Linked DNA regions of Homo sapiens: region 2 is linked to region 1. A link means that fine-mapping ties the variant in region 1 to the expression of a gene that starts in the linked region. Tissue or cell type: whole blood. Region 1 holds a variant in brackets; the other region holds the start of a gene. All regions are shown on one strand. Distances are from middle to middle.

Region 1 (9,186 bases):
GTGATGTCCTCTCTCAGCTATCACATCACAAGATAATGCTGGCTCCAAACTTCCTTTCTGTGCCTCATCATGCAAGGATCTTTTTTCCCTCTTACAAAAACAGGTAAAAAGCCTCACCCAGATGACCCCCATCCCTCATACCATGGAGTCATGAGCTGTCTGGGAAGAATGGACGTGCTGGGACCAACTCAAGACCTTGTTTTGCTGTCTTCATCATCTTACCTGTGCTTGGCCCACAGTCTGGCTCATGATGTGGGCTCAGTAATGTGCGAGAAAGTGAAAATGCCACTCTCTCCACCCCATTTTACAGAGGAGAACACCAAGGCCCAGAGGAAGTTAAGGGAGAGTCAATGGGCAGAGCCAGGGCTAGGCCCTGGTGGTGTGTGGAGCACCCAGGCAGACCCAGTCCTGGTTGGGATCACACCCACGGGTGCTACTGCACGTAACACTCCTCCTTAGGCCTGGAGGCCAAGGTGTGGGTCCCCACGCCTGATCTTTGAAAACACTACACAGGGCTGCTGTCACTTCCCAGGGCCCAGGCCTCAGCCCAGGCCTCGGGACCAACTCTTTGTATAACCTACCTGAATGTATTAAAAACTAATTTTGGAGAAGCAGTGTGGCTGCCAGCTTCCTCTTTGCAATCCGCTTCATTGCGTCCACTAGAACCCTGCCGCTCAATCCCATTACGGTCGTTCAATCATCATGGCAAATCCCTGGGGACACTGAGACTCTGGGCCAGCACCACCCTGGACCTTGAAGCCGCAGCCACTAGCATGGCCCCTGCTACACCTCTTGCCCCACACTCAACAGGCGACTGTGCTCCCCACCCCAGGGCTGAGAGGCTGAGGGCTTCCGTTTGTTTCCTTCCTGCTACAGCTACAGGCCCCCTCCCCTTCTCTGTGCTCAGCCCTCTGTGCCCTATCTCAGAGGCTGCACTGCCCCTCCTCCTTGGGGTCCCCAGCCCCGTCCTCTCTCCCTTACCCCGTCATGCTCTCTTCTGCCTCCAGCCTCTCCCTGTTTACGTCTTCCTCTCAGACTTCAGCTGGACTCAAGTCTTGTCCGTCTTAAAAATAGTGAGAAGCCCCTCAGCCACTTTCCCCTTCGTCCTCCCACTCTTCACAGGCCAGGTTCTTGGTAAAGTCACTTCCCTTCCCGCCCCTCCCGTTCTCAACCCGCCTGGAGCTGCCTTCAGCCCCTCCCAGCTCCATGCTGCCCTTGCTAACAGCGTCAAGGGTATCCTTTGCCAAACTCAGCACGCTTTTCAGACCTCCTCTCCCTAGGCCCTGTGCAGCAGGCCCCCCACCCATACCCCTGCTGGGCATGCTCTCCCCACAGCTGTGATCCCACACAGGAAGCCATCTCCTCCCTCCCAGGCCACTCCTTTTCAGGCCACTCTTTGCTCATCTTCCTTGAGCCAGCTTTAAGTGGTGATGGCCAGGGCTCCATCCTAAGCCCTTTTCCCTTGGGAACACTATGGCCTCATTGCTGTAAACACCCCATTGCTCTGATGGCCCACATCTCTGTCTCCAGCCCCACCTCTCCTGAAAGTCCAATTCTGCTACCCAGAGGCCTTCCCAGGTAGAGGGCTAAAGGTCCCCAGGGACTGGAGAATTCAGTGATCAGCCAGGCTGCAGATCAAGGTTGAACTTGGAAGAAAACCACACCTGGTTCCTGGCTTGGAGTTGGAGGGTGAGTGTCGGGTGTGGGACAGAAGCAGCCTCACCTGGGTAGGGGAGCACTGAGAGGCGTGACAGGCCAGGGCAGAGCATGCAGAGCAGGGGGTGCTTATTCCTCTGGCCCTCACACCTTCCATTTCGCCCTGTCAGCAGCCTGGCACTGCGCCTTTGCCCTTCCCTTCCCTGACTGCCTCTCCCCCAAGCTCCTGCTCAGTGATGCTTCTCCTGCCCACCCCGAGTCAGCCTGGACCCCTCCCCTTGGCCCTGCAGCCCCTGGGCCCAGCGTTGGCAGCTCTGCCTCCTGGAGATTCTTCCGTTTCTCTGGTCCGTGCCCTCTCACCTCCCCATTCCTGCTCCTGGCTCCCAGTCTGCAAAGGGAAATTCTAAACACCTATTTCATGGGGTAGGGCTGGGGGAGAAAGGAGAGAGCCCCACCCCCTGGCACACGATAGGTGCTCCGTGAAGGCCTAAGGGGAAAGCAGGAGCTTGGGCTGAGCTCGCCTAGGGTCTGCGGGCCTCTGCTCCAGCAGGGAGCCCAGCAGGCCCCTGACCCCTTTTCCTGACAAACAGGGAGTTTGCTCACCTGGCCAAGACCCCCGGTGAGGCAGAAATTCCTGTTTTCAGCCAAACGTGGACACAGCAGCCAACTAGGTCATCAGAACATCCAGCTTCCCGAGCTCTTAGCTTGCAGGGAGAGGGGAGGCCCTGCCACTCCCAGGTCACAGTCAGCCTGAGGTGCAGGGCCCAACTCCTGGGGTTCCATGCGCTGGCGTGGCACTCCACCAGGAACGGGTCCCGGGACGCGCCAGCAACTCACCCTCTCAGACCCACAGGCTGGCCACATCCTCCAGGATCTGGGACCCACCGTCTGTGTTCTGTGCCCCTGTCCTTCAGGCAGTTCACTGAGCCCATGAGGCCCATCTCTCTCCCGCCACCTCTCACAACATGCTCAGAGATGGCCATTGTTGAGCACTTCCGGGCGGGCCCATGCTGAGCACTGGATGTGGATTGTCATGTTTAATTCTGACAGCCGTTGAAGAGATTTCTACTGTTACCATCCTCATTTTAGAGAACTGAGCTCCAGCGATGAGACTTGAACCCAGGCTGTCCCACTCTGGAGCCAGCAGTCTTAACCATTAGGCAGCACTGCCTCCTGCACCTCTCCCGCCTCCTCTGCCGGAACCAGCTCACCCCCCCACCCACCTGCACAATCTCCTTCACCACCCTCGCCTGTATCACCTCCATCACCTTCTCTGGGGAGACTGTCTGGATTTCTCTCCTCCAGCTGCCCACAGGTCTGGGCTGCCCTCAGCATTGGGTGTCTGCCTGACCCACCCACCAGGCCAGGAGGTCCTGGGGGGAGGTCCTACCTGGAGTCCTATCTGTCCCCAGGGCCTGTGAGCCAACACAGACTAAAGCCAGCTCAGAAAAGGTTTTCTGAGTGAATGGCCCCTGTCTTCCAGGACTCAGAAGCTTGTGGAGTTGAGACAAGCCCTCAGAGAGTGTGGTGAGGAGGCTTTTTGAACAGACCTAGGGGACACAGAGAGGACAGGGGAATGCAGACTGTGGGCTGCCCACGGCAGCAGGGGCCAGTGGGGAGGCAAAGAATCCTCTCTGACCACCCTCCATTCCCTGCAGCTTCCTCAGGCCTCTAGGACCCCGTCTTATCTTTGTCCTCCCCCCCTCCTTTGCTCCCCCTCGTCTCCCATTCTTCTCTTCTTGGTCATCTCCCCC[C/G]ACCCCCACCCCTATCGCACTGGAAACAGTTGGGCTGTGGTGGCTGAGAATGGGGAGGGCGGGGTGGGGGAGAGGGAGGCCCGAGCTGTTTATAGGAACTGGAGCAGCTCCATCCATCAGCTCTGTTTGGAACTGGAGACCAAGCATAATAAATACCTTGGCTCCTCCCCAGCTGCGCTTTCCGTGAACTTGGCCGTCCGAACTCCAGCTCTCCCTGGCCTCCTGGTTCCCAGGATCCAGTCTCACTCCACCCCACCCTACCTCACCTCCCACCAAGCTGCCCTGGAAAGAGTCTGGCCTCTGGGACCAGAAACACGGGCCTGAGTCTAGGTTCTGCTGCTTCCTCACTGTGGGACCAAGGCCAAGACCGTCACTTAGCTGCACCTCTATTTCTGCATCTGTAAAATGGGGTCATAATCATCGCCCACACCCCCAAACTCAGCACTGCTCATTCGTTCGGCCAGAGTGGCTTGGGCATCTGCTCTGTGCTGGGCCCTAGGCCCTGCGGGATACAGGGAACAGTTGGACAGAGCCTCTGTCTATGGGGTGGAGAGAGGGGCCACACCACAACCCAAGCCAGGAAGTGGTCAGCGCCTTGAGGGAGGTCCAGATTTTGTGCTCGGGAAGTTTGTTTGCAGCAGGGAGCAGCCCTTCCAGCTGGAGAAGTGAGGCAAGACTTCGAGGACATCTGGGCTGGCTCTGCAAGGAAGGGTAGGATTTCAACACGTGGAGATGGGAAGAGGCTTTCCAGGCAGAACAAATGGCAGGACCCAAGGCCTGGCAGCAGGAAGAGCCAGGGCATGTCTGGGAGTAGAGGGGTCTGCCTGGCCCAGCCTCCATCGCATCACTTTCTCCTCTCTCCTCATTCAGCACCTTCTGCTCAGGACTTCCAGCCTTCTGAAATCTTCCCTCCTTCCCTGGAGAGCTTCCAACTCACCCAGCTAGGCCCTCCCAAGTTGTGGATGCATTCCCAGAATTCTGCCATCATGTCCCCACTCCCTCCTTCTCTGAAAAAGCCACCCTAGAAAGCGGAAGATTCAGATCGGGAAAAGGCATGGACCAATAGCATGTTTCTGGAGTGAATAAGGGAAAAAATGAATAAAGAAATGCAGAAAAGATTGAGTCAATGAAGGAGAGAGTGAGTGAGCAAATGACTGAAAGCAGCCAGCATTGCCGGGACCCTGCCGCATCTCATACTGGGTGCTGCACAGGCAGCGTTCCTCCTCTTGTGGCGCTTGGGAAATAGACATTAATCACACACAAACAAAAACGATGGCAAATTGTAATGAGGGCTATGAAAGGGAGTGAAGGGCAAGATCACTGAGGGGTGGGACTCAGAAGAATCCTTTCTGAGGACATGACCTGTCAGCTAAGACGGAAGGAGGACTTCAGTTGAGAGAACAAGTCAATTAATACTCCGTGGCCTCTTCCACTCACTCTCATGAATTTGCCAAGTCGCCTGGGGAGAATGGGGCCTGAACTCTGGACCCTGAGGTCCTTTCTCATGCACTGAAAGCAGCCCCCCAGCCCTGGCCCCTCCCTGCGACTTGGTGACTTGACTGCCCTATTCTAGCATCATGGAAAACACATGGAAGGCCACGTATAGGGTGGTGGGAGGGATGCCCAAGGGAGTCACGCATTTTGGGGGGAGGGGGCTAGCTAGGCTGCAGGATGAGGGAGTCCAATTCCAAAGGCCCGTGCTTTTTTATTTTATTTTATTTTTTTGGTGGAGGATGAGCCAATAATGTCTCCCTCCTCACTTTCCACACTGCTCATGTCAGCTTGTACTACCCTCCCCTTTGACCCCAGATAACCCACTGTATCCAACCTCCTGTATGTTTTCTCCTTAATTGAGTAATCACTGACAGACACATTTACATTGTATGCAAACACACATATGCAAGTATTAGAGATTTTAATTGTTATTTTACAAAAATGGGATCATATTCTATTATACTCTCTTGCATTTCGCTTTTTTATGCAATAGTACTTCAAGGAAATCCCCCGAAATAAACTGATATAAGTTTCACATAATTTTTGACATTACATAATATTCCATAGCGTGAATATTGCACGATTTATTCAGCCATTCACCTATTGATGAACAATAGCTTTATCTTTTCTTTAACTATAAACATGAGGCAAAAAATTCTATTCCTATGCCTATACTCTCTAGGGTTTGTGTTCTCATGGAATGAATGCCTAGAAGTAAATCAATGGAGATATATATATTTTATACACTTTTAATGTATATTATATATACTTTTAATAAAGTTTGCATTTCAAAAAAACAGTAATGTTTCACATTTCCGCAAACAACGTATGAAAGTATCTTATCCTGTGCCTCCCTACCAGAAATGCAGGTTTTAGCTGTGGGTATAAAACGATCTCTCATTGTTACTTTAAATTGCATTTTCCTGCTGCTGGAGCTGAGCACGTCTTCATTTGTATTTTTGGCCATTTGGATGAACTCTTCTGTGAATTACCCATTTTTATCCTTTGCCCATTTTTCTACTGAGTTAACTATTTCTTATTAATTTGTAAATCCTTATTGTATGTTGTAGATCTTAAACTTTGTCTCACATTTCCATAATTCGTTTGTCTATTGACCCTGCTTATGTATCTTTTGGCCTACAATGTTTTCCAAGGTCTCACTTTTCCTTAATCGCTTCTCAATTTTATTAAGTTTCACTCAGGTTGCTCATATAGTCTCCTAAATTTTCTTGTAAAATTTGTTATGTTGGCTAGGTGCGATGGCTCACATGTCTAATCCCAGCACTTTGGAAAGCCGAGGTGGGTGGATCACCTGAGGTCAGGAGTTCAGGACCAGCCTGGACAGCATGGTGAAACTCCGTCTCTACTAAAAATACAAAAAAAGTTAGACAAACCTGGTGGTGCATGCCTGTAATCCCAGCTACTCAGGAGTCTGAGGCAGGAGAATCGCTTAAACCCAGGAGGCAGAGGTTGCAGTGAGCCGCGATGGTGCCACTGCACTCCAGCCTGGGTGACAAGAGCAAAACTCCATCTCAAAAAAAAAAAAAAAAAAAAAAACCAAAATTGTTATCTTGTTTTTTATTTTACATTTAAATCTTTACATAACCTGAGATGTTGTTGATTTTTTTTTTTTTTTAAATAGAGAGAGGGTTTCCCTATGTTGCCCAGGATGGTCTTGAACTCCTGGGCTCAAGAGATCCTCCTGCCTCAACCTCCCAAAGTGCTAGAATTACAGGTGTTAGCCACCACGCCCAGCCAACCTGAGATGTGTTTTTTATTTTGAAGTTGAATAATCATCCAATTTTACTTGCTTCAAAATGAATAGTAATTTTGAAAGCATTGCTTATTAAGTAATTAAAAGGTTACTCTGTCAGATATTAAATTCTGATATATATTTGAGATCTATTTCTGGATTTCTTTTTTTTTTCACTAATCTATTTCTCTGTTTCTATACCATTACTCTAATGATTGGTTTTAGAGTTGGTTCTGATACCTGCAAGACAAGTCATCTTGTACTGTTACTATTTTTCATGTCTTTTTGGCTATTCTCAGGAATTTATTGCTTCATATAAACATCAAGATCATTGCACTCTGTTTGGAATTGATTTTGGAAGGTTTGACATTTCTATATTAAGTCTTCCCATCCAAGAGTATGATGTATCTTTCCATTTGTTCAGATCTTGTGTTCTCTTTTTTTGTTGTTGTTGTTGTTGTTGTTGTTTTTGAGACGGAGTCTTGCTGTCACCCAGGCTGGAGTGCAGCGTTGCAATCTTGGCTCAATGCAACCTCTGCCTCCTGGGTTCAAACGATTCTTCTGCCTCAGCCTCCTGAGTAGCTGGGACTACAGGTATGTGCCACCACACCCGGCTAATTTTTGTATTTTTATTAGAGATGGGGCTTTGCCATGTTGGCCAGGCTGGTCTCAAACTCCTGACCTCAGGTGATCCACCCACCTCAGCCTCCCAAAGTGCTGGGATTACAGGCATGAGCCACCACGCCCAGCCTCAGATCTTGTGTTCTATGTTGCTACAAGATTGTATACCTTTCTTCATAGAGACCCTATATCTTTCTTGTTACATTTATTTCTGAATATCGTTTTTGTCAATATCATAATGGGAATATTTTTTCTATTTCCGTTTCTATGCATTTATTGTCAAAAATAAGAAAAGCAACTGGTTTTTGTACATTTATCTTATATCTAATAACATCATTTTTTCTTAATAATTCAAATATGTTTTTCTTTTGCAGTTATTTTATCTTATTTGCTAGAGGCTCTGAGGTTTTCTAGATATACAATAATTTAATTGCCTCATTGCTCCCACAATTCCCTTGACACTCTCACTACAGTAGCATCTACCTCCAGCCATGTCTTTCCTCACCCGGCCTGCACCCAGGTTACAGGGAATCCCACTGCCCACAATAGAATTTCTTCTCTCATTTCCTCTCTTCTCAAAGCTAAGACTCCAGTTCCCTGTTTCCCTGGTTTACAGGAGCAGAGTAGGGTATGGGTGGGGGTGCTCAGGTTCTCTGCTGCTTTGTTCCACAGAATGAATTTGTCCCACCCTCACTGGAATTCAGCTTTCCTAGAGCAAAGGTTGAAAACTGGTGGCCTTTGGGCCAGATTTAGCCTTCAGACATGCTTTATTTGGCCCACACAGTGGTTTATAAAAATTTTGATTAGTTGCCAACATTTAAAAATTGTAAGAGTTGTTTTACACGGGAACATATAAAAATCTGGATTTCTAATTTTTCTTAAAATCCTGAAAGATCTGAGAAACTGGGCCCTCAGCCCACAGGACAATGAGTGGCAGGAGCTGTGAAATCACATGTCCTACCTAGACTATGAGCTCCTCAAAAGCAGGAGGTCATCCTGCCCCTTCTGTACCCCCAGCATGTACCCCTAGAGCCTGGCTCCAGGCAGGGGTTCATGAAAGCTTAATTCCTTTCCTTCAGTAAGTTTTAAAGATATGTGAGTTGACCCATACAATAAGGGTTCTGAACTTTATTATGCCTTGGCAGTCTGGTGAAGCCTAAGGACTTCTTTTCAGGATAAGGTTTTCAAATTCATAAAATAAAAAATACACATGATTACAAAGGAAACCAATTCTATTGACTGCTTATCAAAATATTAAAAAATAAATTGTGAATTAGTAATACATGTTCTTTATGAGCACATTACATAACAAGATCTAGTGGCAAGTCTAATAACTACTGTAATTTTGAAGCACCGATGAGCATAAATGATATTCTGAGAGATCTGTAAGAAGGCAGGAAAACGTGTGATTTCTGTTGGTTACAGGACTGCTAAAGTCATTTGTACTCTGAATACTATGGGGATTCGTGGCTACATTCAAGATGGAAAGAATGATTACATTTCAATGAGAAGCTAATGATGAAAATAAAGACGTAATTTTTTCTCAACCAAGTTCACAGACCCCAAGAATTCTACCCACAGATCCCGTGGATCTCAGATCAAAACCTCTACTTTCGGGAAAAGGTGGGAATGTCAGCTACAACCAAGTCACAATAACAAGGAAACACAATCCCTTAGAAACTGCCCCAGTTGTGGTTGTTCTCATTCAAGGCAGAGTGGGAGTGTAAATGAAATCACCTATTCTGGAGGGCCCTTTGGCAATACGTTCCAAGAATCTTAAAAATGTGCATCTGCTTTAATCTAGCAATTCTGTTTCTAGGAGTTTATCCTAAGGAAATAAAGACGTAGCCAAAAAATAGAAAAAAAAATTGAGCGTGAAGACGTTTGTCATAGCCAAGGACACATCCA
Region 2 (9,296 bases), 23 kb after region 1:
GTGCTCCCTGCTCTGCCCGTCTGCTGATTCAACGTGGGTGCAAGTGAGTCTCTACCGAACATCACAGATGTGGAGAAGCAGGCCAGGCCCGGGGCTCTGTGAAGTCACAGGGCCAGAGCTTCCTACAAACAATCCCCTCCAAGCATGGCCAAGAAAAACCCCAAACTTGGAGCTCAAAGCTGAAATTCCAGGAGCTCCACTTCCAGGAATTAATCCTGAGAGACAAATATCCAGAAGGTGGACAAAGAAGAACATGGCAGAATTTATTTATAATAGCAAAAATCTGGAAACAATCTAGAAGTCTAGCAGTAACAGCAAGGGTAAATACATTCATGTATATTCAGATAGTGAAAAATTGTACAGCCATTAAAATTATGTTTGCAAACAATTGTTATTAATGTGGAGAAGTGTTAAGTGAAAAAGGACAGAATACAAACGCATGTATGTAGTGTGATCGTAACGGAAAAAATGCATAAAATCTGGGAGGAAATATCCAAAAATGCTAGAAAATGATTGAGTTAGGGTAGAAAGATTAAAATGTTTCATATGTTTATACTTTCCTGTGCTTTCCAAACTTTCTATTTAATAGTATGAACTTCTATTTATTTTTATAATCAGGAAAAATGAATTAGACATAGAGAAAAAGAAGAGATTAATTCTATTCCCAACTCCGGTGATAACTGGACACAACCTTGGGCAAGTCAGCGACCCTCTTCCAAAGTTCATTTCCTCCTTGTCTGTTCATCTGTTCCTCCTTTCCTTCATTCGAGAAGGGACTCACCTGTGCCAGGCCCTGTGCTGGGCACTAGGGACCCAAACATGAACCAGAATGTAAACATATGGAAAAATGTCTAACCTTCTTCATAATCAGAGAAATGCCAATTAAAGCTAAGCCAAGATATCATTTCTAGTCTATTAGATTGGCAAAAACTCAAAAGTTTGAGAACGTGCTCTGTGGGCGAGACTGTGGGAAAAGAGGCCCCTCTCGTACATTGTCTGGTGGGAAAACAAAATGGTGCAAGCCCTACCTGGAGGGGAACTTTTGCCGCAAAATTACATTTGAATTTACCCTTTACCCTGGCAATCCCCTCTTGGCAAAAATAAGAGAAGACAGATTCATAAAGCTATTCATGGCAGCATCATTTGTAATTGTAAAAAAACTAGAAACCACTCAAATGTCCATCAGTAGGGGCAGCTTGACCACACAATAGACAACTCTGTAGCTAGAAAAAGGAAGGAGGCCAGGCGCAGTGGCTCATGCCTGTAATCCCAGCACTTTAGGAGGCCGAGGTGAGTGGATCACAAGATCATGGGTTGGAGACCAGCCTGGCCAATATGGTAAAACCCCGTCTCTAATAAAAATACAAAAAAAATTAGCCAGGCGTGGTGGCGCATGCCTGTAATCCCAGCTACTTGGGAGGCTGAGGCAGGAGAATTGCTTGAACCCAGGAGGCGGAGGTTGCAGTGAGTGGAGATCACGCCCCTGCACTCCAGGCTGGCAACAGAGCAAGACTCCGTCAAAGAAAAAAAAAAAAAAAAGGGGGGGGCGGATGAAGAAGATCTCTGCATGCGTGTCATGACAGTGTGACCTCCGGGCTGGGTACAACGTTAACTGAAAAGCAGAGTGGACTAAAATGCATATAGTACGTTATCGTTTTATCCAACAAAAAGGAGGGAATACACAAATACATGCGTGTTTTTAAAATTAAGTATCAGTTAAAAGATAAAAAATAAAATTAAACAATTGTTGTCTGCTGGAGTGGGGAGGAAGTGTGGTAAGGGAATGGAGTAGAAGCCAGGCTTCTCTGAATATACCTTATTATATAGGTTAGCTTTAGAAGTACATAAATTCTTTCCATAAAAATAAAACAAAATTAAATCTAAATAAAAGTCAAAAGCAATCACCCCAAATAAAGAGCAAAATGAAATCAATAAATCTGTGTATTGAATTGTTTTCTTCACCAAGCAAAGCTGAATTATTTTAAGTGATTTAGAAACCTGGTAACTTGACTATAGCTTGACTAGTAGGCTATATATTCTAAGGATAAAAGAATCACAGACAAATTATAAAGTATTTTCAGTAATCATATTATTAATACCACTATTGGTGTTATTATTCTGATATTTTTATAATATGTATATATAGAAAGAAAGTAGGAGAAATGAATCAGTAATAATGTCAATGTTGTTAGGAAGCAAGATGTTCAGCATTAGACAAAAGAGATTCAGATACAAAATCAAAATACTTATGTAAAAGCCCTATAGCTGAAGGTTTTATTCAAACTATCAATATGAACCCTTGATATATATCTTCTTAAGAAAAAAATTTCCTAGCTCTGCACCTTGAGAAGATCTAAAAGCAAAGACCAACTCAGCATATCTCACACCTCACACCCAGATTTGTGGTTTCTAAATGCCACTTCTTGTAAAAAAGAACCAGGGCTTCTTGAAGAAATATCTAATTCCAGGTCCAGGCGGAAAAAACACAAGACAAACCTGGACATCTCGTTATACCAGAAAGTCAGGACAGTATTAAACACCACTAGGGTCAGGCCAAAAGGACTCAGATGACCAAGAGATCTCTATGGGCCAAAGGTGGGACAATTTGAGTGACAACAAGGTTAATAACTGCAATAAATTGAAAATTTTCAAATGCATTTAAAAATATTAGATAATAATTTAAAAAAAAAAACAAAACCAACAAAAAAAAACTTTGCTGATCACCTCTAGAGACTGTGAGGGAATCAGCTCATTATTCTGAAAACTGATAAGTAAAGGGGAAATCAGCCAGCATTAGTTCTGTCCTTCCTAAACCAATTGTACCTTAGGGGAACCAAAGCATCAGGAGAGAAGTTTTTCTCCATAGAAGTGTTCCAGCTAATAAATGAAGAAAGAATGATAAAATTAAAACATCATTGTTTTGTAATTCTCTAATGAAATAATAGATATAGGCAATGATCATCACAGCCTTCTAAAGGCACAAAAGGAGAGACAACCAAACATTATAAATATGATGTTCCTTCTGAGGGAAGTAGACACGCCACCTATGAAGCATTCTTCCTAGCACATTGAGTCTAATCAAGTGTTTAGATCTAACTACCAATTTACGGGAAAGGCAGGAAACTGAGGAATGTGTTAAATAACACTATGGGGGAATGCAGCCAGAAGGTGGAAAACTACATGGGATCAACAACTTTGTTTAGTCAACAAATATATATATATATATTTTTTTAAAACAGGAAATCCCAGCATTTTGGGAGGCTGAGGTGGGAAGATCATTTGAGCCCAGGAGTTTGAGACCAGCCTGGGCAACATGGCAAAACCCCATCTTCCATGAAAAAAAAAAAAATACAAAAATTAGCCAGTGTGGTGGCACATGCCTGTAGTCACAGCTATTAATACTTGGGAGCCTGAGGTGGCTGAATCACTTGAGCCTGGAAGGTGGAGGTTGCAGTGAGCCGAGATCACACCACTGCACTCCAGCATGGGGAACAGAGTGAGACAGTGTCTCAAGACAAAATAAAAATAAAAAATAAGGAGAGACCAGACTCAGTTGCTCACACCTGTAATCCCAGCACTTTGGGAGGCTGAGGTGGGAGGATCACTTGAGCTTAGGAGTTTGAGACCGGCCTGGGCAACATGGCGAAACCCTGTCTCTACAAAAACTACAAAAAATTAGCCAGGCATGGTAGCGCATGCCTGTGGTCCCAGCTACTCAGGAGGCTGAGGTGGGAGGATCACTTGAGCCCAGGAGGTTGAGGCTACAGTGAGCCAAGATCATGCCACTGCATACCAACGTGGGTGACAGAGTGAGTTAGACCCTGATTCAAAATAAAAAAAAAAACCACCCCCTCCCCCCCCAAAAAAGAGAGAGGAAGTAGAAAAGATTGAAAGAGATTTAAGAGAAAACGATCAAATGCAATGTATGGAACTTGTGTAGATCCTGATTTTGAACAAATCAACTTTAAAAGATCTGTAAAAGATCTTTGTTAGACAATGGGGAATTTTTTTATTTGGAAGACAGCTGGCCTTGAACTCCAGGGCTCAAGTGATCCTCCTGCCTCAGCCTGCCAAAGTTCTGGGAGTAATTATACTTAGAAGCATGATTTGGAGTAATCTGGAGTAATCACGCTTACAAGTGTGAGCCACCACGCCTGGTTTATTGGGGAAATTTAAACACCACTATATACTATGATAATAAAAAATTATTATTAAAAATGTAGGCAGGATAATAGTTTCTGGCCATGCCTTTATCTTTTAGAAATACAGACTGCAATATTTATTTTGAGACAGGGCCTTGCTATGTTGCTCAGGCTGGTGGTGAACTCCTGGCCTCAAGTCATCTGCCCACCTCAGCCTTCCAAGTTGCTGGGATTTATAAGCATGAGCCACTGCGCCCAACTCCTTGTAGTATTTGTGGATAAAATTATCTGATGTTTAAATTTGCTCTGAGTAATCCAGTGGGGAGGAGTTGGGGGATAGAAATGAAACAAGAGTGGCCCTGAGTCGGGGAGGGTCGAAGCTGGGTGAGGAATACACAGTAGTTTTTGTACTATTTTTGTTGTGTGTTTGAAATTTTCCACAATAAAATGTCTTTGCTGCTGTCAAGGAGGTGGGGAGGAAGACCTAGACGTTCCCTCCAAGGCTGGGGTGGGGGAAGGGAGATCGGGCCGTGTGAGCTTTCCTCAGGAGTGAGCAAAAACAGGAACGTGCCTGCAGAGGGAGGAGTTCCCAAAGAGGAAACGGCGCAGGAACAGCAAATGCAGAGAGGATGCACACTCTGAAGAGGGCAGGCAGCTTCTGCACCGAGGGAGCAAAGGGGCGTGTCAGGGGCAGCTGCTGGAAGGAGGCGCAAGCACCACGGAGAGTCTGGGATGCCCAGCCAAGGAGCCCTGGAAGGGTTGCCCTGGGGACTGACACTGTGGGCTCTGTGTTTTAGCCAAGTCACCCAGGCAGCTGAACAGAAGATGGACTGGAGGGAGAAGCCTGGATGTAGGTAGGGAGGCCTGAGCAGTGGCCAGGTATTTCCTGGACTGGGGTCCTGGAGAAGACAAGGTGGCCTGAGCCAGGGAGTGGCCTGTGATGGACTGCAGGAGACAGCTATGAGTGCTGCTGCCAGGAGGAGGGTGCTGGGAGGGAGGAGTGCAGTGAGACCCGTTTGTGGCCTAGGCAACTTGGTGGATGTTGGTGCCACTATTAAGATAGGTTGAGAGGGCAAGTCAGGCCCCTTCATCTAGAGCCCTGGGCTGGGAGACAGGGGCCTGGGATCTGGCCCCAGCCCTGCTGTCTGGCTGTGGAACCCAGGGCATGTCTCTACCCCTCTCTGACCTAGGGGTCCCCATCTCTAAAGCAAGGGCTAGGAGCCTCAGATCAGAGGTTCTCCGAATCTGCCCCGGGTCAGATCTGTGCCCAGCCCACACGTGCACCCTTCTTGCCTGCGAAGGGCTCACGAGTTCTCATCTTGCGTCACTGAAAATCCAGTGGTGTGATGTCAATGGCATTTCCCTTCAGAAAAAGGAAATGAGCTTAGCAAGCGTGTTACCAGGAAAGGAAAGTTAGTTGGGCCCCACCCTCTGCAGCCCCATGCTCCCCGCACACAGCAAGCAAGGCCCCTCTGCCTGGGGCTGGGGACAGGACCCAGAAATGTCACAGTTCAGATACAGGCACCAACACAACAGCCTTGACTTCCAAGCAGGGCTGGGCTGCCCTCAGCAGAGTCAGCAGCTTCTCTGGCTCCCATGGCCTGGACCCTGGCCACACTCGGAGACTGAGGTCACAGGTAGCTCCAGGGTCTCATCAAACATCAGCAAGGCCCAAAAGCTGAGCTCTTTATAGCCAGGAGACTGCGACCCAGACAGGAGAAGGGGCCTGGCACAGGACACAGAGCCAGTCAGAGGACAACCCAGGCACAGGCCACATGGCTCTGGGGAGTCAGGTGGTCCCTGAAGGCCTGTCTTGCTACAGAGCTCCCAGAATGCCCCATTCCTGGTAGATGTTCCCAGAAAGTCCCTCTCCAATTCCAAATGTTAAGTGCCTTTACTAAATGAAACCACTCCCTGACACTTAGCTTTTGACCATCTAAACATTCCTTAAAATGAACTATGAAGATGAAATGAAAACCAGTGTCAATCTATCCAATACAATTGCTATATACTTTGGAAAAAATGAATAGTAAATTGGTAAGTTTGGTATATTTGGCAAATTGGTCATTTGAAAACCTGATCAGTTGGCAAGCTGGTCATCAAGCAGATCCATTTTTAGGAATTTGACCTAGAGCCTCCCACAGACCCCACCAACCAGGCCTCCTCCCACCTTCCAGCTGCATGGGCCGGGCCAGATCCACCGCATCTCCCCAGCCCAACCCTCAGCCCAGGGCCTGACACACAGGTGGGTCCAGGCTCTTGCTCATTAACTGCTGAGTAAACTAAGGAGATGTGGAGCCTGTGTTGAACCTGAGCACCCTGGGTAATTGGAGGGGCCCACAGGAGGTGGATTAGCAGGGGTGGCCCTGGTCAGCCCCAACACAGTGAGGTAACCGGGTGGAAAAACCCCTCACCTTTGCTCTTGTTGTAAAAGTCAACTCGGGTCATAATTTCCACTGTGCCCCCAACAGGGAGGGCATCTGGTTCACCCTCCCACGCACCCAGGGTTTGGGGGTTTTCAGGTGAAGTGGAACTAGGTGTTTGTGTTTCTGCACCTTTGCAGGATCGCTCAGCAACAAAGGAGCCAGAAAAGGCAAGGTGTACACACCGTGTGCAGCATGGGCGAGCTGCAGGCATGCAGGTAAGAGTGTGTGCATGCAGGTGTGTGCACACGAGTTTGCATGTGCTGATGCAGATGGCTATGATGCGTGGTGGTGATATATACATGTGGATGCTTATGGATCTGTGCCAACCATTATTAAGCACATATGTATACCCGTGTGTGTATATGCATGCATGTGTTTGTGTGAGTTGCAATGTGTATACAACTTTACACAATAAGTGAATTGAGTACATGTACCTGTTTATCCACGGAAGTGTATGATGACTGGACATATGTAAATATGTGTATTTGCATGTGTTTATACTTTGTGCATAGATGCATGTTTGTGTATTTATGCTGATCCATTTAAGCGTATGGGATGTGTGTGGATGTTTGTGTAACATCTGTACATACTCCATAGGTGCATCTTAATACAGGAATATGGGTGCGATGTGTATGTGTGTGTGTGTGCCTGTGTGAACAGGTGCGGCTGGAGGTCTATGAGTGTGTGGATAGGTATATTTGCCTGTGCGCATGTGCGATTCACGTGGTGTGAGTGCACATGGTCGCAGGCAAATGTCTGTGTGGGCACACACATGCCCTGTTGCCCTTTTCTGTCTTTTCCTGTTGGGAAATTACAGAACTTCTGAGTCCTAACCATGGCTGGTGGCTCTTCCAGGAACATGGTTTCCTGGACCCAAAAGGTAAGCTTGTCAGGGACCCACGTGAATGAGGAAGTGGGTGGGCCTGAGTCTGGGGCTCCTCTGAGAACTGCTGTGGACCAGGGAAATCTTGCTGCCACCTCTGGTCTTTAGTCCACCTCTCAGTAGTAGCTTTCAAAGCTTGATTTTTTTGGAGGCGTCTCCACGGAGCATAGTCCTAAGCTCCTAGCCTACATTGTCCCTGTTCCTGGGCCTGTTTGGTTGACATTCTCTTACAGTTTAAAAAAGACATCCACATCCGTACTCTTAGCTAATCCTTGTGACCTTTCTTCTAGTCTGTTTGGAGAGGCTGGGAGCAGAGTGGTTAAAAGAGCCAGGCCTGGTTCCATTTCTGACCCCTCTTCTAGCTGAGCAACTTCCGCCTCTTCCAGCCTCCCTCACGGGAATCACAGATCACGTGAGATGACACCCATGAAGGGCTTGACTGGCATCTGGCACATGGTGAGGACTGCAAAAATGTGGGCTATTGTTTTTACTATTATCCCCATTTTATAGATGAGGAAACTGAGGCTTGGAGAGGCTCTCTGCCTTTGTCAACCTGGAGATGCTGGGAAGGAAGTGAGGCCCATCCCACCTCAGATGCCTGTCCTCTGTCGTCAGGAGCATTCTCTTGTTCTTCCGGGCTTGGCCAAGCGGTGGTAAACCCCACATGTGGTTCTGTGGTTGCCCACACAGTCCTAAAAATAGCCAACAGGAACCCAGGGGCTCCCCCTTGGTGAGTGGCAGCAGGCCCAGTCCTCAGGCAGCCACCAACCTGCTCACTCCCCACAGGCAAGCAGGTCCTGTCTAGGAAGGGGCTGGGTGGCCTGGGTCCCATGCATGATGAGCCAGAGGCTGTGCCAAGCTTATAGCAAATATTATTTTATTTCATTATGTTTTCTTACATCTGTGATGTGGAGGCCATAGCTCCACTGGACTCATGAGGAGACTGAGGCTCAGAGCAATGAAGTGACCTGCTCAAAGTTAAGGAGCTTCAGTTTGGACCCAATTTGTTCTGATCCTAAGGTCACTATCCTTAATCCCTCTCCCTGTGGGGTCTTCCCTATCTTGAGCCTGTGGACAGCTGTGCAGTGGCAAGAAAAAGGCCTTCAGAGCTACGCAGACCTGGCTTCAAATCCCAGCCTCCCTGATGAGCCCTGGTGGTCTTGGTAAGTCACCTCACCTCTCTCAGCCTCAGTTTCCTCACTGAAAAAATAGGAGCCACACTGCACATGATGTGGGAGTATGGTGGGGATCTAATGAAAGAAGGCACACAAGCACCCGGGGGGGGCCTGGGATGCAGCCAGTGCTCAGTACACAGCCACTCACTGGCTCTGCTCCTCCCCCCATTGACATCTATGCTTCCAAAGCTGGGGTGAGAGGAGCAGCATTGGTCGAGCTCCCAGAAGTGTCCTGCCAGGTCAGGGAAGTGGAACCACCCAGGAGAGGCCAGAAGAGGAGGTCCCTATGGTAGACTGAAATTTCCCAAAAATGATCTCAGGAGTGTTCCTAATTCTATACCCTGGAAACTTGTCATTCCCCATCAGGAGATGGAGTCCATTGCTCTTCCCCTTGAAACTGGGCATGCCTTTGAGATGGCCTCCATGAAAAGAATGTGATAGAATTGACATGAAAACTTACTAGGCTAAACCTAAAAGGTGGTACAGCCGCCACCCATCTGTCTGTCTATCTTTCTGTCTCTTTCTGTCAGCATGCTTGCCCTTGGGACTCAGACACCATATTGTGAGGAAGCCCAAGCTACATGCAGAGGCCACTATAGTTGTTCTGGCCAACAGCCCAAGCTTCAGCTGCCAGACATATAAATAAACCAACTCTTCAAATGATTTCAGT

Evidence for each region. PIP is the estimated chance that this variant, and not a neighbour inherited with it, causes the effect.
Region 2: it holds the start of LINC02757, and the variant in region 1 is fine-mapped to the expression of LINC02757 in whole blood (INTERVAL, PIP above 0.99).

Annotation. Positions count from the first base shown.
Region 1 is chr11:76,648,952-76,658,137 of GRCh38, reverse strand. It overlaps LRRC32 (leucine rich repeat containing 32), which reads left to right. Exons shown (of 3, transcript NM_001128922.2): 3 at 1-614. LRRC32-AS1 (LRRC32 antisense RNA 1) reads right to left here and starts at 1,142. Exons shown (of 3, transcript NR_199061.1): 1 at 982-1,142. RefSeq lists an enhancer at 3,846-4,369. The variant C/G (reference allele first, on the strand shown) is at 3,411.
Region 2 is chr11:76,625,891-76,635,186 of GRCh38, reverse strand. LINC02757 (long intergenic non-protein coding RNA 2757) reads left to right here and starts at 4,765. Exons shown (of 5, transcript NR_187244.1): 1 at 4,765-4,996; 2 at 6,706-6,783; 3 at 7,962-8,614; 4 at 9,157-9,296. RefSeq lists enhancers at 4,588-4,882, 5,341-5,700.